Linked DNA regions of Homo sapiens. The protein of the gene in region 2 binds, or shares a complex with, the protein of the main gene of each other region. Links are inferred from orthologs where the notes say so. Each region holds a gene or a part of one and is shown on either strand. Other genes may lie near its edges.

Evidence for each region.
Region 1: NSMCE1 (region 2) and NSMCE2 share a complex: the UniProt entries of both Homo sapiens proteins name them as parts of the SMC5-SMC6 complex.
Region 3: NSMCE1 (region 2) and SMC5 share a complex: the UniProt entries of both Homo sapiens proteins name them as parts of the SMC5-SMC6 complex.
Region 4: the proteins of NSMCE1 (region 2) and NSMCE3 are in contact, whole or in part, in a crystal structure (PDB 7DG2), measured with the Xenopus laevis proteins. The link is inferred for Homo sapiens from one-to-one orthologs. Residues at the interface, in NP_001083134.1 of Xenopus laevis: Ile5, Glu7, Gln10, Arg11, Leu13, Gln14, Ala15, Met17, Ser18, His19, Leu30, His33, Leu37, His38, Leu54, His57, Leu58, Pro60, Leu61, Phe62, Met63, Val84, Asn86, Ile88, Thr89, Met91, Ala92, Ser93, Asp94, Gln149; in XP_018121157.1 of Xenopus laevis: Gly57, Glu58, Val60, Gln61, Tyr62, Leu64, Ile65, Lys66, Gln68, Lys69, Val82, Thr100, Gln102, Gln103, Val104, Phe105, Gly106, Phe107, Asn123, Leu125, Gln126, Arg127, Val128, Gly130, Asp131, Gly132, Met133, Arg134, Asp136, Glu137.

The regions. Positions count from the first base shown.
Region 1 is NC_000008.11:125,087,497-125,094,881, forward strand, and holds the start of NSMCE2 (E3 SUMO-protein ligase NSE2), read left to right. Parts: upstream 1-4,363; 5' UTR 4,364-4,462; intron 4,463-6,971; exon of another isoform or gene 6,972-7,037; intron 7,038-7,385. UniProt on the Homo sapiens protein: E3 SUMO-protein ligase component of the SMC5-SMC6 complex, a complex involved in DNA double-strand break repair by homologous recombination. Is not be required for the stability of the complex.
Region 2 is NC_000016.10:27,265,754-27,273,110, forward strand, and holds the start of NSMCE1 (non-structural maintenance of chromosomes element 1 homolog), read right to left. Parts: upstream 3,020-7,357; 5' UTR 2,953-3,019; intron 2,622-2,952; exon of another isoform or gene 2,410-2,621; intron 1-2,409. UniProt on the Homo sapiens protein: RING-type zinc finger-containing E3 ubiquitin ligase that assembles with melanoma antigen protein (MAGE) to catalyze the direct transfer of ubiquitin from E2 ubiquitin-conjugating enzyme to a specific substrate.
Region 3 is NC_000009.12:70,261,977-70,268,998, reverse strand, and holds part of SMC5 (structural maintenance of chromosomes protein 5), read right to left. Parts: intron 4,696-7,022; coding exon 4,554-4,695; intron 1,077-4,553; coding exon 1,024-1,076; intron 381-1,023; exon of another isoform or gene 1-380. UniProt on the Homo sapiens protein: Core component of the SMC5-SMC6 complex, a complex involved in repair of DNA double-strand breaks by homologous recombination.
Region 4 is NC_000015.10:29,266,812-29,274,483, forward strand, and holds the start of NSMCE3 (non-structural maintenance of chromosomes element 3 homolog), read right to left. Parts: upstream 3,012-7,672; 5' UTR 2,895-3,011; coding exon 1,980-2,894; 3' UTR 1-1,979. UniProt on the Homo sapiens protein: Component of the SMC5-SMC6 complex, a complex involved in repair of DNA double-strand breaks by homologous recombination. The complex may promote sister chromatid homologous recombination by recruiting the SMC1-SMC3 cohesin complex to double-strand breaks.

The DNA.
Region 1 (7,385 bases), on a different chromosome or scaffold from region 2:
GGTAGGAGGAATGCTTGAGCTCAAGAGTTCAAGACCAGTCTGGGCAACAATAGCGAGACCTTGTCTCTACTAAAAATCAAAAGAATATCAGTCAGGTATGGTGGTGCGAGCCTGTAGTCCCAGTGACAAGGGAGGCTGAGGTGGGAGGATTGCTTGAGCCCTGGAGGTTGAGGCTGCAGTGAGCCATGATCGTGCCACTGCACTCTTGCCTGGGTGACAATGAGACCCTCTCTCAAAAAAAAAAAAAAAAAAAAATTTTCTCACATGTCAAGTATAGGAGATTCTTGCTATTAAGAATAGTTCATATCTGAAAAATGCTAGAGTGATTACAAAATACAGAAAAATGTTTCATAAAAAGGAGAAGAAAAAGTTTTGATTACAAATGTATCTTGAAATTTGTGAAAATGAGCTTTATATATTAGGCTGTGATAAGTGCCGTGAAGAAAAAACATAATAAAGGATGGGGCATATGCTAGTTTCCATAGAGCACCTCGGGCAGAAGTCAGAAGGAAATGAGAGAGCAAGCAGTATGGATATCTGGGTATGGTCAGCAGCTTTCTAAAGTGGTCCCTAATGATCTCTGCCTCCTGGTATTCATGTTCTATGTAGGTTCCTTCCCTTGAGTATAAGCTGACTTACTGACTCCCTCCTAAAGAGGAGAATAGGGCCAGGTGTGGTGACTCACTCCTGTAATTCCAGCACTTTGAGAGGCTGAGGCACATGGATCACCTGAGGTTAGGAGAGCCGGGATCACCCCGGCTCTACTAAAAATACAAAAATTAGCCAGGCATGGTGGCAAAAACCTGTAATCCCAGCTACTCGGGAGGCTGAGGCAGGAGAATTGCTTAAACCCAGGAGGCGGAGGTTGCAGTGAACCGAGATTGCACCACTGCACTCCAGCCTGGGTGACAGAGTGAGACTTCATCTCAAAAAAAAAAAAGGGGGAGGGGGGGAAGGAAATAGGATAGAAACAAAAGATACAGTGCACTTCTGAGATTAGATTTCGAAAAGACTAACTTCTGGCTTGGGCACCCTCTGTAGCTTGCTAGTCCAGGGGAAGCAACATATCATGGTGTGAGAGAGCCCTGGGGAGAAGCCCATATGACAAGGAACTGAGGCTTGCCAAAAACCACCTGAGTGAACTTGAAAGTAGATCCCTTATAATCCCAGTCCAGCCTTCAGATAAGACCATAGCTCCTTGTTCCCAGCCTGACTGCAATGTTCTAAAAGCCCCAGAGCCAAAGGCAGCCAGCTATGCCCTACCCTCCGGACCATAGATGCTATAAAGCTTATTGTCTTAAGCCACTGGGTTCTGGCATAGTTTATTATGCAGCAATAGATAATGATCCTAATAATGGCATCCCAAGCAGAGGTTACAAGTAAGTGCAAAGGCCCCAGGGCAGGAATGTGCTAGATGGCTAGCAAGGTGGCTAAAGTGGCTGGAGCAGAGTCAGCTAGGGGCGGAAACAGAAGAAGTAGACTGGATTGGATCTGAGAGCCAAGAAGCCACTACAGCTGTCTAGAACTCCCATGAAGGTACCCTGTAATACACATTAAGGCATACATTATTAACAAGTTCTTTTAGTTTCCTCTGTGATACTTGCTTGTTAAACCACACTGATCTCTAACAGGCTGAATTTCAGATAATTTCATTTCATTTTCTGCATGGATATGGTCTGGCTTGGGAAAGCAGAGAGGGAAAGGGGAAATAATGGACAGTGGGCAAAACAGTCACATACTAAAGCCCTCTGAAGACCACCAAACTAACCCAGAAGGTCTAAGTAGGATGAAACTTTACACCAGGAGTGTCCAATCTTTTGGCTTCCCTGGGCAATATTGGAAGAAGAATTGTCTTGAGCCACACATAAAATACACTAACACCAAAAATAGCTGATGACCTTAAAAAAAATCGCAAAAAAATCTCATAATGTTTTAAGCAAGTTTACAAATTTGTATTGGGGCACATTCAAAGCCATTCTGGGCCGCATGTGGCCTGCAGGCCTCAGGCTACACAAGCTTGCTCTAGACTCATGAAGAGGAGGACAAGCTATGATTAACAGGTCCAATGGCTACCCGATTTGGGATACCATGACAGGGCAACAATGTGGCCCTGGGAAAAACAACTTAAAGCAAAGTAACATTACTTGCCCTTTACTCTACTCTCTCCCAACATACAGAAGGACAGACAGACTCAGCACCTGCATGCACACATTCGGGGAAGCTTCAGTCTGGGATAACGACAGAGATCAAGACTTTCGTGTGTCAATCTCTTGTTTTAATCCTTAGTCCCTTACTCAAGAATTACGCTGTAGACAACTTTAAAAGAACATGAGGAGGATAATAATAACCAAATATGTTCGGCAATAGTAAAACAAATATTATGGGTCTTTATTACCTAGGTAAATCACCTTTCTAAAATTCTATATATAAACTTTATATTAAATTTTTAATGCAAAAGCATATGAGTTATATTTAATATACTTTTACTGAAATGAACTCACTGCTTGTAATCTGTTTTGCCCCATGAAGGGCACTTGTGTTTTCTATTTCTAATAATGCAAGCATCTCCTGCTAAGTTTTTGAAGATGGAAGAAGTTAAAACAAGATTAGCTGAAAGAAGGAAATCACTTAGTTACATTTTATGTACTAGACCTCCTAACCCGGACTAGTTATATTTTCCATGTAACAAATGGAATTTCCATAATTTGTACAAATATAATTTGGCTAGAGTATTTGGTAAATAGCCCCCTCGTTGGCTGAAGGACTAGTCCTGAAGAACAGAATCTAAGAACCATCATTAAAAATGCCTAATCAAGTTGCAGCTAAGAGGTAGGTGGATGGCTTTACAAAGTGTTAAGACTCAGCTAAGTCTTAAAAAACCACTTTAGAATTAGGTCCAAATAAACACTGTAGAAGAAGCTATGTTAAATTATCCTTTCAGAGGTTCTCTTGGTGCTAGGGATCAAGAACACTTGAAGATCAGTTTTCTCAATACAGGCTATATTATTATTGGCATGAAATCCAGAGATCCCACTATATTTTCTTATTTTCTTTTACAAGTGCCGGTAACTTCATTTTTAATAATTTGGCGTGGAACTGTGATTTTCAGTTTGGGAAGTAATCCTAATCAAAAGACATGCTTTCAAGAATAAGGCATGACATCCTTACACCAATTACCCTGAGTACAGAATAATATTTCTTAAGGAAATCGAATTGTCGTGGACAAACAGTTTACCCTCTTCAGAGGACAAAAGAAGGCAGGTCTATTTTTAGCCTTTCGCAAAACCTCAGTTCCATAAAGGAAGCACTGGTCTCCACAAATCCATTATCACAAACAAAATATAACGGTTGCTGATCAAGATAAATGCAAGCTGCATATATTTTCCAGAAAAGTTCTGAAATGAGGCTGAACCTGAAATCCTGGGAAAGGCAGGTGAAGGACAATTAGAGAAGGTGTCCCTTGTAGTGCACAAAGACAGTAAAACTTCGCCCTCACTACGCCTCACCTATGTTTGAGGGAGCTCCATGCGCTTGCAATCAGGAGACCCAGTTTTATGGCTCTGTGACTTTTTTTCTTTCTCCTGTCCGATCATAATCCTGATTCCGATCCCAGGAATCAGGGCCCTGGGAACTTTTTTTTTTTCCCCCAAATGCAAAGGATTTTGACATCAGTATGTCACAGGTGAAGGCATTAAGGCGCGGCGAGCAGCAATGACTTGCCCAAACTCACAGCCCATGGCATAACTAGAATGCAAATCCACGTCTGTCAGCCTGTAAAAGTCCTCACTACTAGCCTTTCAGTTTTCTCAAAAGCAAAGAGAAATAACGACGACATCCATACAGCAGTGTTCCCGGAAACTTGGAAGGATGAGATTCGGACCAAGCAGCTGAACGGTGCTTCCTAAAGCGAGGAAGGGGTGTGCAAAATGATTTCCCCCTAAGCGGAGACGAAGAGCTGGATTACAGCCCCCGCCCCAGAAAGCCCCTAAGCCCTCCATCCCGAGTCCCCCATCCAGGCTGCACGCGACTCTGCAGACCTCCCCGTGGCCAGCGCGGCCCAGCGGGGAGGGGAAGGGGGCCATGCAAAAATGGGGCGCGCTCACTCCATCCCCACTCACCTGTCAGCCGGGCCGCGCCACGGCGCACGCGCAGGGCCGGAGGTCGCGCGCGGAGCCGGCACCCAGTTTCCACCCCTCCCTCAAGGCGGCGGTCCTCTTCTATCCGCAGTCCCGGACCTGGAGCGGGTCAGACCCCGACTTCCGCCCCTGACTCCCCAGGCGGTCACATGACCGAAGCGGCTGGGAGCAGGGAGGGGCATCATGTGACCACTCGCCGGCGACGGCTGATGACGCAAGAGCCCGCTCTCACTTTTCAGCGGCAGGCGAAGGGGGCTGAGGAAAGGAGGTGGGTCTAGGCAGGGGAAATTGGGGTGCCACCAGACGGAGACAGCTTGGACTACCAGGTAGGGAAGAAGCGGGGGACGGCAATGGGGAGGGTGGCAGGAGTTTCGCCACCCTCAGGGACACTCCACGGGGACTCCGAGCCGGGGGTCCGTCTACCCGGATTATGGTTGTGGAACTTTTCACGCCACGGTAGTGAGTCTGGGACAGTTTACCCTCCTGTCCGAGACGCCATCTCTCCATCCTTTCGCCTCAAGTGTGTAGGGGCAAGATTACGAATTTTTGATCCAAATAGATTTTGTTTGAACTGACTTTAAAAGTAAGGCCACGGGAAGGTCGTTTGAATAAACTCTCTGGACCTCAATTTCCTCTTCAGTTATGTAGATTGCAGTGAGAATTAGCGATAAGGAGAATAAAGTGCCGGGACACCAGTTTATGGCATTCTGTAGGTGACCGAGAAATGATGATGTCTGTTGTTATTTTTGTAACTGGCCAAATCTTTATTGGTCCCCTATTTTGTGTGAGGAATTGCTTTATATGCAATAGAATATGTCAGGGTTCTAGTTTAAGGAGGTGTCAGTTTAAAGAAGCTGCAGACATGTGAGCAAATAGTTGTGATGAGTTTCATAATAGGAGTGTGTTGTGTACATGTGCATGTGATAGGGATAATGGTAGCATGAGGGAGGGAAAAGCAATTGTATGAGAAGGATTCAGAGAGAAGGGATTATCCTTGCATGTTGAAAAAGGAGAGGCAGCTCTGGCTGACTTGTACAAGGCTCCCATGGATTTAAAGGAAGTCAACATATTGTCTATAAATAACATGCAGAGAAAAAACTCAGGAAATGCACAACTTGTTCTAAACTTTCTTGGAGATCATAGGTACCGGGAAGAAAAAGATCAGTGTTATTACCTGGGGAGGGATCCAAGAGAGATTGATTTAAACCAGTTATTCTCAACTGATGCACTATTGACATTTTAGGCCAGATAATTTTTTGCTGTGGGGTCAGGGTGAGGGCTGTCCTGTGTTTTGTAGGATGCTTAAGAGCATCCCTGGCCTCTGCCCGCTAGATGCCAACCACAAAGTCTACAGATACTGCTAAATGTCCCCTTGCGAGAGGGGTAAAATCCTTCTTGGTTGAGAACCACTTAAACCAAGCCATGAAAGATGGTATCTTAGTCAATGTGGGCTTCTGTAACGGAAATGCCATAAACTAGGTAGCTTATGAACAACAGAAATTTATTTCTCACAGTTCCGGGGCCTGTTTCCTGGTTCATAGGTGGCTTCTTGCTGTGTCCTCACATGGTGGAATGGCAAAGCAGCTATCTGGAGCATCTTTTAAAAGGGCACTAATCTTATTCATGAAAGTGGGCCTCATCACCTCCCAAGAGGCCCCACCTCCTAATACCATCACCTTGGAAGTTAGGATTTCAACATATACATTTTGGGTGACACAAACATTCAGACTTTAGCATATGGGTAAGATGTGGGCAGATAGAAAACTGAAGAGAGGCCCTGGCACAGTGGCTTATGCCTGTAATCCCAGCACTTTGGGAGGCCAAGGCGGGCGGATCACTTGAGGTCGGGTGTTTGAGACCAGCCTGGTCAACATAGCGAAACCCTCTCTCTACTAAAAATACAATAAATAAATAAATAAATAAATAAGTAAATAAATAACATAATTGGTGTGTCCTGGCACACACCTGTAATCCCAGCTACTCGGGAGGCTGAGGCAGGAGAATCCCTTGAACCCAGGAAGCAGAGGTTGAGGTGAGCCGAGATCATGCCACTGCACTCCAGTTTGGGCGACAGAGCGAAACTCTGTCTCAAAAAATAAATAAATAAATAGAAAGAAAACTGAAGAGAAGGTTTTCTCATGGTGGGAGCAGGATGAGGAAAAGTCCTCTTTTTCCTTTTTGGTGACAGCGTCTCACTCTTATCGTCCAGGCTAGAATGCAGTAGCATGATCATAGCTCACTGCAGCCTTGGACTCCTGGACCCAAGGAGTCCTCCCACCTCAGCCTTCCGAGGGTCTAGGACAATAGGTGCAAGCCACTATGTCTGTGTAAGTTTAAATTTTTTTTTTTTTTGTAGAGTTGGGGTCTTGCTGTGTTGCCCAGGCTGGTCTTAAACTCCTGGCCTCAAGCAATCTTCCTGCCTTGCCCTTTCAAAGTGCTGGGATTATAGGCATGAGCCACCACACCCAGCCTGAACAAAGTCTGGAGCTGAGATTAAGAATATTGGGTATGAAGGGGAGAAGGAAACAGGAGAGCTATGAATCTGACTGAAGCAGACAGTTAATTTATTCATTTATTGACTATTTTCAGAGCACTTGCTGTTTGTGAAGCACTGCTAACATCTTGCAAGATAGTCACTAACAAAGTGGAGTGACTATAATTATAATTATATCAAAGAAGGTGCTGTTAGAGTCAGAGAAAGGAGTTGTCTTTGACTTGTACTTAGCTGTATTTATTGGGAGAGATTGAGAAAAGTATGTCTGTTCCATCTTTCTGCACCATCCATTGCCTTTGCTTTTCAATTCAATCTCAGTCTTAATCTTTTCCCTACTCCAGAATTACAGAAGAGCATGATCGTGTTTTCCTTGGTCCTCTGCAAAAGTGAAGTTTCACTAAAGTAATGTGAGTTTTGCATTCAAACAAATAGTGACAGCTACTGTTTGGTAGATACTTTCCATTTATACTGGATTGCATTAATCTTCATAGATACTGTGTCTTTGTTCAAGCTACCATAACAAAATACCATAGACTGGGTGGCTTAAACAACAGAAATTTATTTCTTACAGTTCTGGAGGCCAGAAGTTCAAGGTGAGGTTGCCAGCATAGTTGGATTCTGGTGAGGACTTTCTTCTTGGCTTGTAGATGGCTGCCCTTTTTATGTGTCTTCACATGGTAGGGAGAGAGAGAGAGAGCAGTCCCTGGCGTCTCTTCCTTTTCTTTTCTTTTCTCTTTTTTTTGAGAAAAGAGGGT
Region 2 (7,357 bases):
AATGTTAAGTGCAACAAGCAAGTCACACAAAATATATTTTAGGATCCTATTACATAAAATCGAAAACTCAGCAAAAGCATACATTCATTCATTAGAAATACACACATACATGGTAAAAACTACAAAGCAAAACAAGGCAACAAGTAACACAATATTCAGGGCGGTGGTTATCTTTGAGGAGGGAAGAAAGGATTCAGTGGAGGGTCTGGCAATCTGAAAATGTCTATTTCTTAACTTGGTGGCAGGTACATGAGTGTTCATTTTATTTTTGTTCTTCAAACTTACACTTCCACACAATTGTATAGGTATGTTACATACAATGTTTTTAAATGTGATGGGCTGGGCATGGTGATTCACACCTGTAATCTCAATACTTTGGGAGGTCAAGGCGGGAGGACTGCTTGAGGCCAGGAGTTTAAGACCAGCCTGGGCAACATAGCAAGATCCACTCTCAACAACAACAACAACAACAAAATAATGTGAATATGTTAAATAACAGCCAAAATAAATGTAAATGAGAATGAGAACAGGATAGGATTGAATGCTATAATTTGGTGGAAAAGGAGTGGGAAAAGTAGGAGTGGAAGAAAGACAACCATAAGCTTGTTTATGCATATTATGTCCCTTGTCTCTATGAGAAGAGACTGTAGGGAGAATGGTGGGATTAGCATAGACATGTATTACCTACTTAAATAATTTTATTTTATACAAAAATCAGCCAGGCGTGGTGGTGCACGCCTGTAATCCCAGCTACTCAGAAGGCTAAGGCAGGAGAATCGCTTGAACCCAGGAGGTGGAGGTTGCAGTGAGCCAAGATCGCGTCACTGCACTCTAGCCTGGGCGACAGGGCGAGACTCTGTCACAAAAAGAAAAAAAAAATTACTTTTTTTAAAAAAATTAATTAAAACAGTTTATTGGCTTTAAATGTACATCAGTAAATTTTTAAATGCTAAAAAGTTATGATAAAATAATACAGAACCAAAACATCAAAGAAAATAGAGGCTCAGCAGCATGATTTCAATATATTTTCCCGGATAAACAGATTTTTTTTCTAAGTATATGCCTTTTTATTCAAGAACAAAAACTCCCTAAATTCAATGTTTAGAACTGAATTTTTTTTAACTAAGCCCAGAAAACTGGGGCTCATAAAATAAGGCATAATGTGGGCAGCAAAAGAAAAAAGGAGAAAAAAAATGGGAGAAAAATTGGTTTTAATCCCATGTATAATATAGGTTGGCTGGTTTTGTTTTTGTTTTAGCCAATTTAAGGCAGAATTATCTCTCTGCAACCTTGCAGATAAATCCTAGTGTTTTAGCCATAAGTTTCAAGAGTTCATATATACAGATAAACCAATTAAAAAAACCTTTTCGAAGGCTTTTGAAGCATTATATAAATCTTTAAAATTCCTATCACCCACATTTTAAGAAATACATCTATACGTTTAAATTTATTATTAAATTAATTAAATGCATTAATTAAATCAATTTATTTAAATTTAATAATTTTAAAATAGAAATGTTTGTGGAATAAGTAAATCTCAGTCATACCATTCGTGCGGGTGCTAACACAATTCTAGTGCTTCACATGCCCGACCTCATTTAACCCAAACCAGAACAACCTTATGAGCAAAGGGTCACTGACCCCATCTTACAGATGAGGAAACTGAGACTAAGAGGGCACAAGGTGACACACAAGAGTTGGTGGCAGAGATAGACGTGACCATACAACAGCACAGTTCCTGTTTTCAAGGACACTCTCTATCCAGCGAGAGTGAGAAAAGTGAGTGAACAGAACAACTACAATCCAGGTCCCTCATCTGCAACCCTCAAATCTAAAAAGGTATGAATACTAGTGGATGATCGGATGCAGGGGAAAAAAAAAAAAAAGTCTGAATACCAAAACTTGTTTAAGTTGGAAAACTTGACCTGACTTAAGGTGAGGCTATTTATGGTTATTTATCCCAACAGTGTAAATATATGCATTTTTTTTTTTGAGACGGAGTTTCGCTCTTGTTGCCCAAGCTGGAGTGAAGTGGCACGATCTTGATTCACTGCAACCTCCGCCTCCCGGGTTCAAGCGATTCTCCTGCCTCAGCCTTCCGTCTCAGCCTCCCGAGTAGCTGGGATTACAGGCACGCACCACCACGCCCGGCTAATTTTTTGTATTTTTAGTAGAGACAGGGTTTCACCATATTAGCCAGGCTGGTTTCGAACTCCGAACCTCAGGTGATCCGCCCCCCTCAGCTTCCCAAAGTGCTGGAATTATAGCCGTGGGCCACCGCGACCAGGTCAATGTAATATATGCGTATCTTCATAACTTTAGCTGTGGAAAGGGTCGTGTATTTGATTACAAGCCGCTGCTCCAGCCCCCTCTGAGGGTGAAACCTAACATAGAACATAGGGACTTTACCTTTCCAAACTCCGAGAACTCCTCGATTTTAAACGCATCTGGCCTCGGGGCTGTAACATAAGCGGCTGCGGACTTGTACAAAGTAAGAAACTCCGTACACAAAACAGAGGGGAGCACGGAGGGCGGCGGGACAAAGAGGGTGGTCGGCAAAGGCTGTATTTTCCATAGATGTAATCACAGTTTGAATCGAATTTTATATTTTGCTTTTTCACCTGTTACAATGAAAAGTATCTTTACCTGTTAAATCGTAATTACGATTAAAAATATTTTTCACTAAATAGTAAGATTTTTAGATGTCTGCGTGTGTGTTGCGGGAGGACATCCCAGTCCGCTGTTTTCTGCGGCCCCTGTCTGGGCCTCAGTTTCCCCATCAAGAAGGGGGAAACCCCAAGACCCCAGTCCCCGAGTTCCACAGCCCACGGGGACCGACCCCGGGGCCGGACCCCACTGCCTGTCTCGCCCACCCCACCTTCCGTCCTCCCCTCGCCTTCCTTGAAGTCCCTCTTCTTTCCCCTCCAACCCCTAGCTCCCCACGTTACCCACCAGGGAGCCCAAGCGCATCCCAGGCCGCGCTAGCGGATACGGTCGCAAGGTGGACTCTTCTTCCTTTGAGGCGGGGCGAACGCGAACGCGGCGTTCCCATTGGTGGCCTGCGGCTTATTCGCCCGTCCGTTGAGTGACGCACTTCCGGTTCTCCGTTTGCGCCATTGCCCTGGTGGTTCCGCCTCGTGGGTTAGATCCCAAATTACGCCCGCTCTCGATCCTTAATAATGGGAAGGGGCTTCCACTTGTCGCCCTCCGCCTCCTGCACCTCAGTGACTTCCCTGACCAAGGAGGAAGAATTGGCGTGCAGCCTGGGCTTCCCTCAATGGCCACCATTCCGCTGGCACAATGTAGTGCCCTGCCCCGGGCCTCAGTTTCCCCATCTGTGGAACTGAGTGTGGCCTCGACGTCAAAAATGTGGACTCTGGTCCGGTCGCGGTGGCTCACGCCTGTAAGTAATCCCAGCACTTTGGGAGACCAAGGCGGGCCGATCACTTGAGGTCAGGAGTTCGAGACCAGCTTGGCCAACATGGTGAAACCCCCGTCCCTACTAAAAATACAAAAAGTAGCCGGGCGTGGTGGTGTGTGCCTGTAATCCCAGCTACCCGGGAGGCTGAGGCAGGAGAATCACTTGAACCCGAGAGGCAGAGGTTGCAGTGAGCCAGATCGTACCACAGCACTCGAGCCTGGGTGACAGAGCTCAAAAAAAAAGAAAAGAAAAATGTGGACTCTGTGGTCATAGAGCCTGATCTAGAATCCTGGCTCTGCCACTTACTAGTTGGCAGGCGCTTGGGCAAGTCACTGAGCCTCAGTTTCCTCTTCCATTAAATGAGGATATTAGTTCTTGCAAAATAGTGTTGGTGAGATTTACAAGAGATAATAACACCTATATCAGGTGCTTAGCATGGCCATTGAAAAGTGTCACATGGGAGTGCTGATTATATGTTAACTGTTATCTTACCTAGGGATTGTGAGAAAGCAAGTGAAATTACTCGTGGAAGTGAATGGACTGCTTTGAGTCTTCAAGGCGTTAATTTTCCAAACGTTTGAATTCTATCCCTGGTCTGAGAGCTAGGGATGCAGCCTAGCAAGGGAAACAGGTAACTAATATAGAACAGCAGTACCTGCAAATATCTGTCTCTGTGAGGATAGATCAAATCCAGGCTTGGTCACTCACCACCCCTGTGATCTTGGACAACCTCTTAACCTCTCTGGGCTTCAGTTTCATCTGCTAAGTGGGAAAGCAGTGGTGTGTGGTGATTAAAAGCTTCAGCTTTGGAGCTGGATGGTCAACATGGAATCCTGGGCCTTAAACTCAGTGTCTCTGAGACATAGGACAAAGTACAGTCAGCTGTCCATGTTTACAGGTTCCCCATCTACGGATTGAAGCAACTGTGGGTGGTTAATATTTGTGGGGGAAAACAGTAAAAAATAACAGTTCAACAATAAAAATAATACAGATTCCGAAAGCAATACAGCATAGCAATTACTTATATAGCATTTACATTGTATTAAGTATTGTAAGTAATTTAAAGATGATTTTCAATATACTGGAGGATTTGTGTAGGTTAAATGCAAGTATTCTCGCATTTTGTAAGCACCCAATGGTTCTCCTTGCCTGCTTCCTAGACAGAACCAATTTATCAAGACAGGGGAATTGCAATAGAGAAAGTTTAATTCACACAGAGCTGGCTGAACAGGAGACCACAGTTTTATTATTACTCAAATCAGTCTCCCTGGAAATTCAGGGTTTTCAAGGATAATTTGGTGGCTGGAGGTGCTGGGGATTAGAGAGTGTTGATAGGTTGGATCAGAGAGGAAAGGAGTCAAAGCTGTCCTCTTGCACTGAGTCAGATCCTGGGTTAGGACCATAGGACCAGATTAGCCAGATTACAGGGCTGGGTGGCGTCAGCTGGTGCATTAGAACACGGGTTCTGCAAAATATCTCAAGCACTGATTTTAGGTTTTAGAACAGTGATGTTACTCCCGGAAGCAATCTGGGGAGGGTCAGAATCTTGTAGCCTCCAGCTTGCGTGACCTCCTAAACCATAATTTCTAATCTTTTAGCTAATTTGTTAGTCTACAAAGGCAGACCCGTTCCTAGGCAAGGAGGGGATTTGTTTTGGGAAAGGGCTATTATTGCCTTTGTTTCAAAGTTAAACTATAAACTAAGTTCTTTCCAACATTAATTCCACCTATGTCCAGGAATGATCAAGGACAGCTTGGAAGTTAGAAGCAAGATGGAGTCAGGCCAGATCTCTTTCACTATCATAATTTTCTCAGTTATGCTTTTTACAAAGGTGGTTTTGATTTTACATAAGGGACTTGAGCATCGAGAATTTTGGTATCCATGGGGACTAAGGTACCAATCCCTCACAGATACTAAGGGATGACTGAGCTCAAGTTTTCAGCTTCAGTTTGCTCATCTATAAAGCAGGTTTAATAATAACACTTTGTTGATAATGTTATTCTGAAGATTAAAGGAAGAGTAAACGTAAACTACTTAGAAGAGTGTCTCTGGCACATTGTAAGCCCTCAATAAGTGTGAACTAACACCACTAATAAGTTCTTTATAAACTGCCTAATAGGTAGTCAAATAAGAGGGGAAATAAAGCCCTAAGGAGTAATATTTGTGTTTTGTTTGCCCTACATGGTTTTGTGAAATTTTCTATTCATTATCAATATTTAAAGTTGGGGTTTTCAATCTTTGACTGGGCATGATGGCTCATTCCTGTAATTCCAACACTTTGGGAGGCCCAGCTGGGAGGATGGCTTGAGCTCAGAAGTTTGAGATCAGCCATGGCCAACATGGTGAGGCCCCCATCTCTACAAAAAAAATATATACGCGCGCGCGCACACACACACACACACACACACACACGCAAAAATTAGCCAGGCATGGTGGTGAACACCTGTGGTCCCAGCTACTCAAGAGGCTGAGGTGGGAGGACAGCTTGAGCCAAGGAGGAAGAGGTTGCAGTGAGCTGAGATTGCATCACTGCACTCCAGCCTGTGTGACAGAGCCAGACTCTGTCTCAAAAATAAATAAATAAACTTGGGACATTTCACATAAAACCCTACTGTAGCTGACTGCTCTGGAAAAGTGGGGAAGTCTGACGACAGTGGGCCAGCCTTCCCCCATGGCAGCACTTGTTCAGAACTTGGGAGAGACCGTCCCCTTTTGTGAAGCATGTGCTTCCCTGGTGTGTGGAGAGATAAAAGAATAGAAAACGCTGGGAACACCAGCATTTCAAGATCAAAGCGTCAAGAAAAAAAGGTAGAAAGAAAAGAAAGATTCAAGACTGAGGGGGTTGGTCTTTCACTTGAAGACCATAGAAGTGATGGAAGACCAGGAAGAAATGAGAGAAGGTTTGTATTTTAGAAAAAGAACTTGGGTATATCTATTCTTTTCAAACATGCTTGGAACATTTACAGAAATTGATTACTGGGCCACAAAGGAAGCTTCAAGAAATTCTCAAGAATCTATAGGTGACATTCATGAACCACATGCTGTGAAAGTGGCATCAGAGGCACATAGGAATACAGACTTTTGAGAAGGAGGGTGTGGTCAGAATCGTCAATGCTCTGGAGAGGTCGAGTAAGATGCGCCACTGATTTAGAATTTGATGGCCAACAAAGGCCATCTTAATAGAGAGGGGAGGAAGCCAGATCGAACTCCAAGAGTGAAGAGTGGAAGTTGAGGAAGTGGAGAGGGAATGCTGACTGCTCTTTTGGGAAGTATGGCTTCAGAAGGGAAGACTTGAAGACATAGGAGCAGAGATAATAATCCATAAAATAAAAACAGGCAGCCGGGTGCGGTGGCTCACGTCTGTAATCCCAGCACTTTGGCAGGCCGAGGCGGGTGGATCATGAGGTCAGGAGTTCGAGACCAGCCTGGCCAATATGGTAACACCCTGTCTCTACTAAAAATACAAAAATTAGCTGGGCATGGTGGTGCGTGCCTGTAGGCCCAGCTACTTGGGAGGCTGAGGCAGAAGAATCACTTAAACCCAGGAGGCAGAGGTTGCTGTGAGCTGAGATCGAGCCACTGTACTCCAGCCTGGGTGACAGAGTGAGATTCCATCTCAAAAAAAAAAAAAAAAAGAATTTGAGACTAGCCTGGCCAACATAGTGAGACCCCATCTCTACTAAAAATACAAAAAATTAGCCGGGCGTAGTGGCGCACACCTGTAGTCCCAGCTACTCTGGACGCTGAGGCAGGAGAATGTCTTGAACCCAGGAGGTGGAGGTTGCAGTGAGCCGAGACTGTGCCAGTGCACCCCAGCCTGGGCAACAGAGCAAGACTCTGTCTTAAAAAAAAAAAAAAAAACACCAAAAAAAAAACAGACAAAAAGGGATGGGGTCAAAGGTGTATAGCGACAGGATTACTGTTAACCTAGAGAAG
Region 3 (7,022 bases), on a different chromosome or scaffold from region 2:
CAACAGTCTCTAAAAATCACCTAAATAATGTGCATATTTATGTGTAAAGGATTAAAATTATATATACCAAGGATGGTCAACTGGTTTCATCATAAACATCAACTCTAGTCTATCAAAAATAGCTGCCAAGAATGGCCAATTGAGAATATCCAAGCTCAAGGGAAAAGAATACTATGATGAATTATTGGTGTCATAAGGGAGAAAATAAAAAATGGTGACAGAAGTACCAAGTCCTTGTCATACATGAGATTCATCAAACTATTAGCAGTAGTTATTTATAGAATTAGGAATGATGGCAAGAAGGCTTTTATTTTCAACATTATACACTTCTACATTGTTTGCGTTTTTTAAAGACAAGCAAGTATTACTTTCAAGATCAGCAAAAAAAAAAAAACCCAGATACTTTAAATTTGTGAAAAATATTGCAACTTCATCATGACTACTTAATAGTAGTATAGTTCTATTTCATTACCTGCTATAAACTTATCATTTCCTTGATAATTTTTTAAAATAAAATTCTCACAAGTTTTTTTTTTGGGGGGGGCAGGGGGCATGGGCAGAGTCTAGCTCTGTCTCCCAGGCTGGAGTGCAGTGGCGCCATCTCGGCTCACTGCAACCTTTGCCTCCCAGGTTCCAGCAATTCTCCTGCCTCAGACTCCCCAGTAGCTGGGATTACAGGCATGTGCCACCATGCCTGGATAATTTTTCTATTTTTAGTAGAGACGGGGCTTCCTCATGTTGGTCAGGCTGGTCTCCAACTCCTGATCTCAGGTGATCTGCCCACCTCGGCCTCCCCAAAGTGCTCAGATTACAGGCATGAGCCACCATGGCTAGCCTACAATTTAAGTTTTTAAAATATATTTTTTAAACCCCTTACTTATCTGGATTAAGTATTCTTTAAATATTATTTCCAATATTTATGCCATAATACTATATTAATACTCTTTTCTAATCATCAGGAAAACATGAATATAAACTAAGAATTTTATAGGAAAAAGGAGTTTTAGCACTTTTAACACTTACAATTCAATTTCAACCATGCCTCTAGAACATCCTCTCTTCACAAAAAACCCAACCTAAGACATAAAAAAGAAAAAGTGAGCTGTGTAGTGACATTCCCAGGTTAACAATCAGAGATTTAGCAGTCATTATTATTTGTCAAATCAAGATTTTTTTCAGGTACCACTTGTATGTTCGCTCCTGTCACTTTCTAAGGTATCTCTCCCAGATCTGGGTTCCTCCATTGTTCCCTCCCACAAATAACAACAATAATAATATTAGGTAAGATTTATCGAACTCCTATGCACTCCATAGCCTCTTACCAACCTCGTGACAAAGCCAGTAAGTGCCAGAAAAACGATCTGAACCCAGGAAATCTTGGCTCCAGAGCCTGTGTACTTGTCCACTATATTAAACACCCAGACAGAAGAGAAAATGCCTGTGGGAAAACAGGTCCTATAGTATAACCACTAAGCACTCAAAGCTTCTTATTACCATTGAAGACTTCCTACAGTCGCGCAGGTTAAATATTAACAACCACGCTAATATTACCTATCCTGTTAATGATATAATTGCCACCAAGCATCGTTCTAAAAGGAGCAATATAATTGAAATTTACATGATAAAGCAGACATATCTGTGCTAGTTTCTATATGCTTATGAGTCTAAGTCCGAAAACAAAGTCTGAGCCTAAAAAAATCAGACTGGATCTTAAATCAGGCTATAAATAAGTGATAAATATTAAAAAAGGTAGAAAATATACCTCACAAATAGTAATCTTTTTAATAGTGATAATGACAGTGATGACAACAGCTAACATTTATCAAGCATTTACTATATACTGTTGTGCTAAGCACTAAACATGTATTTTTCTCATTTAATACTCATAAGCAACCTTGAAGTATACATTCATTTTATAGACAATAAAGCTGAGTCCCAGAAAGATGGGAGAAAAAAAAAAAAAAAAGCCTTATCTTGTAACCACCAAGTACAGCCTAATGCTTAAAAGTACAGGTTTTAACATCTACTATCTAGGTTCAAATCTCAACTCCACCACATACAAGTTGTTAAACATTGGACAGTTACTTAACCTCTCTGTTTCCTCACAGGAAAACCAAGGACATCCATGTAGGAATGACATCTGCTCATTAGCTTGCAAGAATTAAAAGACTTGGTACCAATGAGGAGGAAACAAAAATCAGGAGGCAGTTCTTATTATAAAGTATCCATACAGATGGTGTAGAGTATGTTTTTGTTAAATTTTTATATTAGCATTTAAACAAAAATACATTAAATATTCTTGCTGAGAACTTGGGCATCCCATAAATACATCTGTGTACCCAAAGGGCTGCAATCTGTCATCTAGGAAACACTGCACTCCACAGCCTCCCTTAAAAATCCTATCACTCAAGGATGAGATGTGTTTTCATGACAAAAATCAACATGAGAAAGTTAGTAAAAATTGTTATAGCCAATTCAGTCCTACTGTACAGCCCCTGGAGTACAATCCAACAGACGATTACAAAGAGATAGGGATTAAATGATCTGACAATTAAAAAACTATATATCAATATTCATAAAAATCTGAGTTGGTCCTTGGATGCTATCTGTTCCAACTCTCTCATCTTTGAAATGAAGAAAAACTGAAGTCCAGATAATTGCTCAAGGTCACAAGGCTAGTTATTAACAGAGAAAAGTATCTTCTACCTGATAAATGTCTTCCATATAGCACTAAACACACACACACACATTTTAAATAATTTATAATCTTAAGGGGAATTTGCTTCCATTTTGTAACCATCCATTAACTTTTAATTTTTTTTTTATTATTTCTATCTTAATAGAAATAGGATATGGTCTACGTGGTGTCCATTTTTTGAAATTTTTTGATACTTGCTTTATGACTCAGTATACAATTAACTTTTAGAAATGTTAACTTGTGCTTGAAAAGAATGCATACTCTCCAGTTGTTGAGTGCACTTTTTATAATATGTCCATTAGTTCAAGCTTAACTTCATTGTTCAAATCTTTTGTAGTCTAATTTTTTTATCTGACTGGTCTACTATTATTGATAGCTCTCCCAGTATGATTATGGATATGTTAACTGCTTGTTAGCATTCTGCAGATTTTGCCTATATATTTTGGAGCTAGATTATAATGTGAATTTGAGTTGGGAATCGAATTATCTTCCAGTGAATTAAAACTTTCGTCAGTGTTTAATGACCACTATTATCTATAAAATACTTTTTGCTCTAAAGTCTGTTTTTCCTAGTATTAATGCAGCTACATCTACTTTCTTTTGCATATTTGCCTGGCATGTATTTTTTTTCATCCTTTCACTCTCAACTTTTCTGTAGCACTTTATTTTAGATATGCTTATTAAAAACAAAAGAGAACTAAACATTGTTTCATTTCTCCATTCTAACAGACTTTATAATTTAATGAGAGTTTAGAGTTTAGATCATTTATAATCATTGTGATTATATCTGCACATATTTCTACCATCTTATTTTGTGATTTTTATTTTATTTATTTTTCTTGAGACAGAGTCTCACTCTTGTTGCCCAGGCTGGAGTGCAATGGTGCGATCTTGGCTCACTATAACCTCCGCCTCCTGGATTCAAGCAATTCTCCTGCTTCAGCCTCCCTAGTAGCTGGGATTACAGGCACCCGCCACCATGCCTGGCTAATTTTTGCAGTTTTAGTAGAGACGGGGTTTCACCATGTTGACCAGGCTGGTCTGGAACTCCTGATCATGGCCTCCCAAAGTGCTGGGATTACAGGCATGAGCTACCGCACCCAGCCAATATTTTGTCATTTTTAATGATCTCATTTTTTGTATCTGTTTCTTATCTCCTCCTCCTCCTCCTTTCTCAAGACTCCCTCTGGATTGTTCGGGCAGTATTTTTCCGCCCCCCACTCTCATGAATATGGTTAAGTGCCCTACGCAGGTGTACCATTTTTATCTTTTACACTGTATTTTTACTGTACCTTTTCTATATTTAGAGATGTTTACATAAGTACAGTGTAGGCCATTGTGTTACAATTGTCCACAGTATTCAGTACAGTAACATGCTCTACAGGAGTGTAGTCTAGGAGCAATAGGCTACACCATATAGCCTAAGTGGATAGTAGGCTAACCCATCTAGGTGTAAATATTCTCTATTATGTTCACACAATGACAAAATTGTCTAATGATGCATTTTCTCAGAATATATTCCCATCATTAAGCAACATATGACTGGATTTTGTTTCTGCCCTTTGTAAGTTTACTTCACTGTTCCACAAGCCAAGTGATGCATTTAAAAAAAAAGACATATTACATTATTTCTAGCATTTTAGGTGTAAGAGACTTGAAGAATCCTCTAGTATTATGATCCAAAATACTTCTAGAAATGAAAATCTCCTTCTAGCTTCTCTACCTGCCAAATTTATTCCTTGTATTCATGCACTATTAAGTTTGCTATACCCAAGGAACTGAGGTGTAGAAATTGATGTTACTAAAAGCAATTAATAGGTTTGAAATTTCTTAAAAAGTAATTATATTAACTCACCTTATCTGCTCGTCCCATGAAAGCAGGTTTTCCAGCTAAACCAAGGCAAATGGCACACACAATGCTCGACTTCCCTGTTCCATTGGCTCCAACGATCATATTCAAGTGGGGTCCAGGAGATACTTCACAAATATCATATGTTCTGAATTATAAAGAGATGAAATTATTAAGGAGAGATACAAAACCACTTTTCCTTGCTTTACATTATCTATGAGCTTCCTCAAATTCCTTTAAAAACTAGCTAACCTTACAAATTTAATGTTTTTTTATAGGTTTTTAATAAACAACTTTAGAAAGAATACCAATAGAAGAAATGAAAAGGCAGTAATGCATAACTAAAGAATATAATTTCATATACTTTTTTCAAAAGTCTGCTGAAGAAAGTGAAGTTTGATACCTTGTTCTTTTTTAATAATTACAAAACACTGGACACTATATCAAAGATACTACACAAAATAACTTTAAAACAAATTTTATAGGAGACGCCACGGCTTACCTTGAATCTGTGAATTTTACATTCATATTTCTTTTAAATTATAATGCTTAATGGTTATTCATATTTTAATATTTCAAACAATCTAAGCAGATTTTTAATTACAAAACTGAAGATATATCTCAACCCAAAGGTTTCATTTTATTAACTTTTAAAAATTATTTTCCAAGCCAGGCACCATGGTATGTGCCTATAGTCCCAGCTACCAGGGAGCCTGAGGCCAGGGTACTACTTGAGCCTAGGAGGTCAAAGCCAGCCTAGGCATCATAGAGAGACACTGCCCTACAAAACAAAAGTTGAAAGCTGACTAGCACTCTAATTATAGTTAGCATCTAATCTTTATTAGTTGCTAGGGACAGTTATGACAAAATGTGAAGCAAACTCTGACTCAGACATTCTTTTAACTCGCCTTTGAATACTCTGAATTTGAACCCATAAAGTGTCCTTTGTCCACAGCATTTCAGTTAGCTCTCAGGTAGCTGCCAACTAATTCCTCATGAATAAATGCTTAGCCTGCTATTCATCTGCTAAGTATATAAATAACCAAGCACACACATTAATATTTTAAGAAATTAATGATTTTGAAATGTCGGGTGGTAATAAAAATACAGGTGGCAAAGACGTATTTTCTGGCAGGTTTGCTAATCCCACACCTCTACACAGCATCTACTACTTTATCTTTTTAGCTGTTTTGTTCTGCTAGCAGCTGGGTTTCAAAAGAGCCCTTTATTATGGTTACAATAAAACTAGTTTGGGAACTTCAGACATGTAGGAAATTACCTGACATGGAACTTCTTACGCTCAACACATGAAGCCCCACTTGGATTTCCTGTTGTGAAATCTCTGTGTAAATGTTATACTAAAACGATGAAACTGGTATTTAAGAAAACAGAACAGGGAAAAGCATGAGAATTTCTGGCCTATAAAATACGCATCGATATTACAAATAGGGACAGTTGCCAAAAACAAAGCCTCTGCAATTTTTTTTTTTTTGGCGGGGGTAGGCGGGGGATTTTTCTTGCCTTTAGCTACCCAGATCAAGTGTCTGCACTGTTTAAAATCAATCTTCTGATTCTACGATGTATTTATTGGGAATTCCCTTATCATGAGTTTCCTTTCCTCTGAGCTCCCTCTGAAAGAGCTATTGGTAAAGACCCACCCTCTTATCATTCCATATACTTCACGAGGTATCTCATGTATTCTCTATGGCCTCAATGATTCCTTTTTTTCTCCAAGTCTTTGCATACTATCTACATGCTGAAAGCAGTCCAGATGACCTCTATATGCAATGGTCACCTCAATAACGCTATTTGAATGTCCCATAACAGTCATCTTAAACTTAACACATTTAAAACGAAATCCACCATCTTTCCCATCCAAAACCACTCTTGTGGTCTCTTAGTGAATGGTATTATCATTCATGCCATTGACCAAATCAGAAACCTAGGCATTAGTTTTGCATCCTCTTTGGTTCTTTCATCTCTTTTGACTCCACCCAAACCACCACTCCATCATCCAATCAATCACCAAGTGATGCTGGTAGAATTGTAAATCTGATGTCACTTGTTAAAAAAGAAAAATTAAGGAAAAACCCATCACAGCCGAGTTTCATCTTTTTCTACTTTTTATCTCCTTTCCCTATTCTCTCCTTAGACCTCTAAATTCTACCTATAATGTACTTCTTTCAGTTTTGTGACTATAATTCCTTATTGCTCTGAAGTATTTGCACATGTTATTCCTTCAGCCTCCAAGTGTCTTCCTCCACTCCCAACTCCATTTGACTTGGTTCACTCACTACTCTCTTCCAGGCCATTTACATTCTCTAACTACCCATCTTATTTCCTTGCTAATTCTCTAAGCGCATCTTTCTCTACCTCATGCCTAAAACTCAAAATCCCCTCATTAAAATAAACAGCATCTCACCAACCTCTGCACTTCCAGCTACCTTCTCTTTCTTCTCTTTGCATCCGGCCTGC
Region 4 (7,672 bases), on a different chromosome or scaffold from region 2:
TGTGGCCTCTGATGTTTCATATTTTAAAATTTGAAACAAGATTATCGATGGTAAATTGCTAACACCTCTGAGAAAAGCGGGGGGAATTTTGCCTCAGATATAACTGGTGGTGACTGCTGGGTAATAATTTTTATTATACAGGTGAGAATGCGAGTATCAGAGGGCATGAGGAGGAGAAAGCTGAGTCAGGGAGGTAAGGGGACCAGGAGGCAGGAAGGAGTTTATACACTGAAATAAAATGCAGATCAAGAAGAAATGCCTGTAAGGGCCAAACATATTCCACTGATGAAACAAATGCAAATCCCAATTCAACAGAATGAAATAAAACCCAGTAACCTATCACATTCCTCCATACTCACTATAGACTCTTTTAAATGACATTCCGTCCAGTGTTGATGAAGTTCACTTTTTTCCCCGAGTTAAAAATATTTGCCTTATTTCAAGGTTAATTTGCAGCACCTCCCCCTAAAACAATTAACTTATTTGCCCACTGAATAAAACGTGTTGAATCTCTGCATTAAAAACAGCATCTGCTACACGTAATGGAGGAACACAATGGGACTATGAACTCTTCTAGTTCATTTAGTGCATAAAACTATTATATAGCTATTATTTTTCTCATTTTACAGATAAATTGAGATTCAGAGAGCTTAAAACCTACCCCCACAACCACCATGCTGACAAGTTAGCATGAGCCGTAATTCAAATTCAGTTTGCCAGACAGCCCCAAGACCCATACCCTTTTCCCTATACCTAACTCCCTAGGAGGTAGATCTTATGTCCTGCTCTTATGTTCTATGTGGGGCACACTCACCATACACGTTATATTTCCCCATACAATAGAGTGAGACTAGAGGACTATCTTTTGAACCAGGAATTGCTCTCCTAGGAATGATTTGGAAAAAAAGATAAAGAAAAGTTATATTTAAAAAGTGGCAGCTCCAGACCAAGGAGAATAAAAAATAAAAACATTAAAGAATAACAAATAAAATTCTCCACATCACGGACTAAAACCATTTTACAGGTCAAGAAACATCTGCATACAAACTAAGGAACCTATGTAAATTCATATACTAGTTATGGTGGGGCCAGGATCTCAACCCAGACAGTCCGATTCCCAAACAGGCATGGTTAATGGTTACGCTATTGTTTTATAAGCCTTTTTGAGATCCACAGTGAGAAATATATTTCACCTCATGATCCTGATTTTGTTTCACACAAAAGTGAAACAACTTCTACAAAACAGCATTGACCTTAATATGTAGCAAAAACTTTAAGATGTTGATTTCCAGTCATGAAATTCTCTCATGACCCACGATTTAAAAAACACACAATGCTTAAGTGCTTCAAAAATACAGTATTTATTGTAATAACTACAGTAGCAAGAAGAAAAAAACGAAGTGGAACTACGTGTTTAGCAGCAGAGCTGAATAATTATGAATATAAACAATTACTATTGGGAGAAAATACATTACACTCATTGCTTGGAACCATGAATAATACTTATATATGTACGAAATATAGAAAAATAAAATAGGTTAACATAATAAGGATATAGGCAATTATTTTTTTTAATTTTATAAAAACTTTTATTTTTCCTTACAAACTGGGGTAGTTAGGAGACCTGATAATAGCTTTTTTATTTTCTTGGCACCAAAGCAACTTACTTATGTGTTCCTTCTTGCATTATCTGTTCCAGATCATAGTCAAGTTTTCCAATTCGTTTTACTAAGCTAGCAAAATTTTTTATACCAAAAAGAGTAAAATCAAAACAAATGCTCCTTTGTTTATAGATGAAAATCTGGAGCAAAATAACACAACATTAAAAAAACAAAACTTTGCAAACACATCCTAAAGCTACACACATTGAAGCGTTTACAGCAATATGCTCCCTGGGTTCGTTCTCCCTTCCCCCAATCCTCTAAACTGTGCCTTTGGGTCTCAGACCCTTGTCCCGGGGGTCCCTCTGAATCCACCTTTCAAGAGGATGGAGCTGGGCCACTAGGCTGAGGTCTGGCCCTGTTCTCCTCATCTGCCAAAGCCTCACAGTACTGCGCTGGCCAGTCCTTGGGGTCTTGATTATGGACCTTGGCCACAAACTTAAGAACTTTCATCTTGCTGGTTTCCAGGTTGGTTCGCGGGCCCCACTGGAATTCGTAGTCGACGGGGTCGGTGTGGGGTATCCGCCGGTATTCCAGGTAACGCTGTCGCACAAAGTCCTCAGTAATGAGTTTCTTTGGATCTCCGAAAATTAAATGCTTCTTGGTGGGGTAGACCCCTAAGCGCCGCAGAAAGTCCCAGGCTTCAGTTTCCTTGATGGTGTTGCCCTTCATAAAGATGAGCCCTAAGACGATCATCAGGAGGCCCGTAGTGGGCGTGCCTTGGTCACCCCTCATCTCGGCATCCTCCTCCACAGGCTCCAGGGTGTTGATGAGGATGTAAGTGTTGCTCTTGGGTTCAAGTTCCACCAGCTTATACCCGAAGACGTACTGGAGGCGCTCGGCGGCCCGTTTGAAGAGGTCGGGGAAGATGTCCTTGTAGTCCCCGATGACGTGCTTCAGTATGTCGGCCCGCTTGATCGGAATCTTCTTCTGGTCTTTAATCAGCAAGAACTGCACCAGCTCGGACACTTTCAGCTCCAGCTGCTTCTGGCTCCTGGGCCCCACGGCGGGGGCGGCCTGGGCCCGGCGGGCGCCCTGAGGCGAGGGGCCCTGCGACCCCTGCGAGCCGCCCGGCCCGCGGGACGTGCTCGGGGCCTCCTCGGCAAAGCCGTCTCTGAGAACCCGGGCGTCTTCCCCGGCCCGCGAAGCCCCGGGGTTTCCGCTATGGCTCCAGTCTCTGTCCCTCTCGGCCTGGCCGCCAGAGCGGCCCCGGTTCCTCGGTTTTTGCAACATGTCTCCGGCGGCAGGTGCCGGCGCACACTCCGGTAGGCAAGCAGCCGCGGCGGGGATTGCGGGTCGGCGACCCGCTAACGCCGGTGCCTGGAGGCGCGCGCAGTGTCGGCTGAGACTGCGTGCTGCGTCATGAAGCCTGCGCCTTGCGTCAGGGCGGCTGGGCGGTGCGCCTGCGCGGCTGCGGCGGGTACCAAAAGGAACAGCGTTTTCCGTGCAGCCCTGCAGGTCCGGGCGATGATTTTTAGTATAGTGAAGTGTTGTTACCAAACCATGCAAACAGAGAGCGAGAACCGAAACTCCTAAACAAGTGTGTCGCTAAATTCAGACCACACAGGCTCAGGCAAGTTTTACAGACAGTATTATGAGTTTCTAAATCGGGAGCATTTGTAAACGGAAAGAATTCAGAGGATGAACGTGTGAGAAAAAAAAAAGGTGAAGAGGAAGGGCCGACCGTGGAAGTAAAGTAAAAACATTTATTTCTACACAAAATGTAGAAGGACATAAAAGACCCAGAGGGCTCTTAGTTTTCGTCCCTCCACCCAATTTCATACCCTCCATCCCACTGCCCCCAGTTACTTTCTCTAATGCCCCGTGGAGTCTGTTAAAAACCAAAGTCGGCTGCAGGCTTTCTGCGCAAGCAGGACTTCAGTTTCACTATTTCCGTATTTATATTCTCTGCATTAAACTCCTTTAGCTAGACAACTATGAGAAGACCACAAAAAACGTGTCAGTATTAGGTAAATGTTTTAGCTTGGTCACATGGGTTTATCTTTTGGAAAACAACTGCTTTCGTCACAACCACAATTTTAGCAGAAATGGGTAAGAGGAATGCTGCAAACAAACGTGCACTCTCAAGAGATTACTACTTAATTTGGGGCATCACTGATCAAGAATTGCAATAATGTGGAGCTCTTAAATTTCTTAATTCATAATATATTAGCTTTGAGGAAAAAAAAGAGAACACTGGGGGATTTATCTCTCATCTATGATGTGATATACAGTCTCTACTGTATATTTTAATTGTGCAACTCAAGTAGCCAAAATGAGTCATTTCATTAACTCAAACCATCAGCAGTCTGCTGCCATGACTTCTACAGATCTTAGCAAATTTGTTTCTTCTCTATTTACTTGCAAAGAAGAAACTGAATTTCCCTGTGTCTTTTTAAAGCTACCCAGAAAGTGGATAAACTCTTCAAAGAACCAAATTGAGTTCCTCTTTAATGCAAATATATTCAAAGGAAAGCAATTTAGAACACATTATCTGAGTAATAGCATCAAACACAACCTTATTAAAATTTTGTTAATTGTTAGTAGCATAACACTTTTGTTTGTAATTCAGTAGGAAAATGCAATCTGATAATGGCACTGGAACTGCAATAGTAAATGTAAAATCATATTCCATGAACTAATGCAAGTATGCTAAAATCTGGTATGCAATGAGTAATAACTTACTGTTCCACACAAGATGCAACTATATCCTCAGGCATCAATTTTAATGACAAAGGCCTACTATGAAAAACAAATATATTATCAAGGCATTCATTTTTTTACAATGAGAAAATTCATCTGCTTCAGTTTCCTTGCAAATTAAAATCTGGACTTAGGTTCATAGAAGCTTCCTGCCATCTAGAATTCTGCAAAAGGTCCCTACTGCAGGATGTGGATGTTGTATTGAGGGAATAGAGAGACCGTCTCATATTGTTTTATATTGTTTTATACTCAGTACCTGTTTTAAGAAAAAACAACAAGGAAGTAAAACCAAATACAGGCAGCCCAGCGCCAGGCCCAAAACCAGGCCTGGGCCTGCCTGGCCTAAACCCAGTAGTTAAAAATCAACTCATAACTTAGAAACCGATGTTATTCATAGATTCCAGACATTGTATAGAAGAACATTGTATAAAGAACAGAACTGCCCTGTTCTGTTTCTCTCTGACCACCGGTGCATGTAGCCCCTGTCACATACCGCCTGCTTGCTCTGATCAATCACGACCCTTTCATGTAAAATCTTTAGTGTTGTGAGCTCTTTAAAGGGACAGAAATTGTGCATTTGGGGAGCTCGGATTTTAAGGCAGTAGCTTGCCGATGCTCCCAGCTGAATAAAGCCCTTCCTTGTGCAACTCGGTGTCTGAGAGATTTTGTCTGCGGCTCGTCCTGCTACAGTGCCTTGAGTCAAAAAAGTTCAGTGACCGAGATATAAGGGGAAAGTGGAAAATTAGATAAAAGCTATTGTCAACAGTTGGGCTGGTTTTTCAGTGCTCTTTCTTGCTAAGGTATTCATGTACGTTACCAAGCAGCCCACCAGTCAGACTACCCCTGTCACTGTGAAAATCAGCAGTGTCCTCCAGCAGCACGCTTACCTAGATAGCAGACTGTCATTACTCAAGATAGAGGAGAAGAGATACCAGTTTTTAAGTCTCAAAACATCTCTCTACACTCTTTCCAGAAGAATGCAGGTGAGAAAATGCAGACATAAAATAAGAGTATTAGAATGAAGTTTTAGGCCCTGCATGGAGAAGTCATCCAGACCCACATTCCACCTTGGATTGATACTGGAAGCCATGGATGTCTGGGGAGAAACTGTGGTGATAACAATACTAACATTAGTAACAATAAATATAACCGACAACAGCCAATGATTATAGTAGTTGCTGCTCCATCTCCATGTCTGCAGTTTTACTTTCTGTGGTTTCAGTTACCTGCAGTCAACCACAGTCCGAAAATATTAGGATATTTTCAAAGAGAAACCACAATATAACTTATTACACTATATTTGTTCTACTTTATTGTTAGTGTCAACTGAAGGATGACGAGGTTCATAAATTTGGAAAGAGCTTTATTTCTCATAAAGGGTTGCAGTCTGCGGGGCGGCCATTCCAACAGGCTAGGAAGACAACCTCATGCTAGAAGCCAGAAACAGACACTTCAAGGGAGGGCAAAGGGAGCAGGAATCTATGCAGAATGGGGTGGCCAAATATACATATTTAATAAGCTATAGGAGGAGTCATGAACATTTATGCAAGGAGAAATGTGCATATGCGCAATTGCACTTCATGTCTCTCCCTGGGACCCATATTCCAAAATTGGCAGTGTTAGCATGATCCAGGGTAGGAGTTTTCAGCCCTCTGACATCAAAAGGTGAAGTAGAGGACATGAAAACCCTGACTGCATGTCTTCCATAGACTGGCCAGAACTACTCCATGGTTGGTGGTCTTTTACCAGGAAGAACTGCTGGTCAATTGTGCCAAAACTGCAAAAGGGAGGGGCAGCATCAGGTGGTTGGTTTATACCAGCAGTGGAGTCTTTTGAAAGGGCTGATTTCTGTTTAGCTCTTAGGGAAGAAAGCCTAATGGCATTTAGAGCGGGTGAGGGTTTCCAAGGTTATTCGGGGTCCCCTTGGCCAAGAGGGGGTCTGTTCAGTCAGCTGGAGGGCTTAAGATTTCATTTTTCTCATCAATTATTGTTAATCTCTATTATGACTAATTTATAAATTAAACTTTTTTTTTTTTTTTTTGAGATGGAGTTGCGCTCTGTCGCCCAGGCTGGAGTGCAGTGTCACGATCTTGGCTCACTGCAACCTCCGCCTCCTGGGTTCAAGAGATCCTCACATCTCAGCCTCCCGAGTAGCTAGGATTACAGGTGTGTACCACCACGTCTGGCTTTTTTTGTATTTTTAATAGAGATGGGGTTTCACCATGTTAGCCAGGCTGGTCTCGAACTCCTGACCTCAAGTGATCCATCCACCTCAGCCTCCCAAAGTGTTAGGATTACAGGTGTGAGCCACCGCTCCTGGCGTAAATTAAATTTTATCATAGGTTCGTGTGATGATTAATGTGGAGTGTCAACTTGATTGAAGGAAGCAAAGTATTGTTCCTGGGTGTGTCAGTGAGGGTGTTGCCAAAGGAGATTAACATTTCAGTAAGTGGACTAGGAGAGGCAGACCCACGTTCAATCTGGGTGGGCACCATCTAATCAGCTGCCAGTGCGGCTAGAATAAAAGCAGGCAGAAGAACGTGGAAGGACTTGACTTGCTGAGTCTTCTGGTCTTCATCTTTCTCTCATGCTGGATGCCTCCTTCCCTTGAAAGTCAGACTCCAAGTTCTTCAGCTTTTGGATTCTTGGACTTACACTAGTGGTTTGCCAGGGGTTCAAGGGTCTTCAGCCACAGACTGAAGGCTGCACTATTGGATTCCCTACTTTTGAGGTTTTGGAACTCAGACTGGCTTCCTTGCTCCTCAGCTTGCAGATGGCCTATTGTGGGGCTTCACCTTGTGATCATGTGAGTCAATACTCTAGTAAACTCCCTTTCATATATACATCTATTCTATTAATTCTGTCCCTCTAGAGAACCCTGACTAATACAGTATGTATCTATGCATAGGGAAAAACATTGTGGATTTAGGGTTTGGTGCTGTCCACGATTTCAGGTATCCACTGAGGGTCTTGGAACACATCCTCCACAGACAAGGGGGGACTACTATACAAAGTGAATGGTGGGTCAGACCTTATTCCAGGTGGTTTACAGGTATGACTTCATTTAATCCCCACAACAAACCTATCAGGCATGTGCATTTATTATGTTTCTCTTCTCACAAATAAACTGTCACAGGAGAAGATTATTAAGTTTTGAGGCTCTATAGCGAGTAAGTGGTAGGTGTGAGATCTGAACACAGCCAATCTGCCTCCAGAGAGTGGGCTTTTAACTGTATACTGATTCAGAGCAAACATAGACATGGTGTCCTTGAAAAAGTAAGGGCTTTGGGATCAGATGAACTAACATT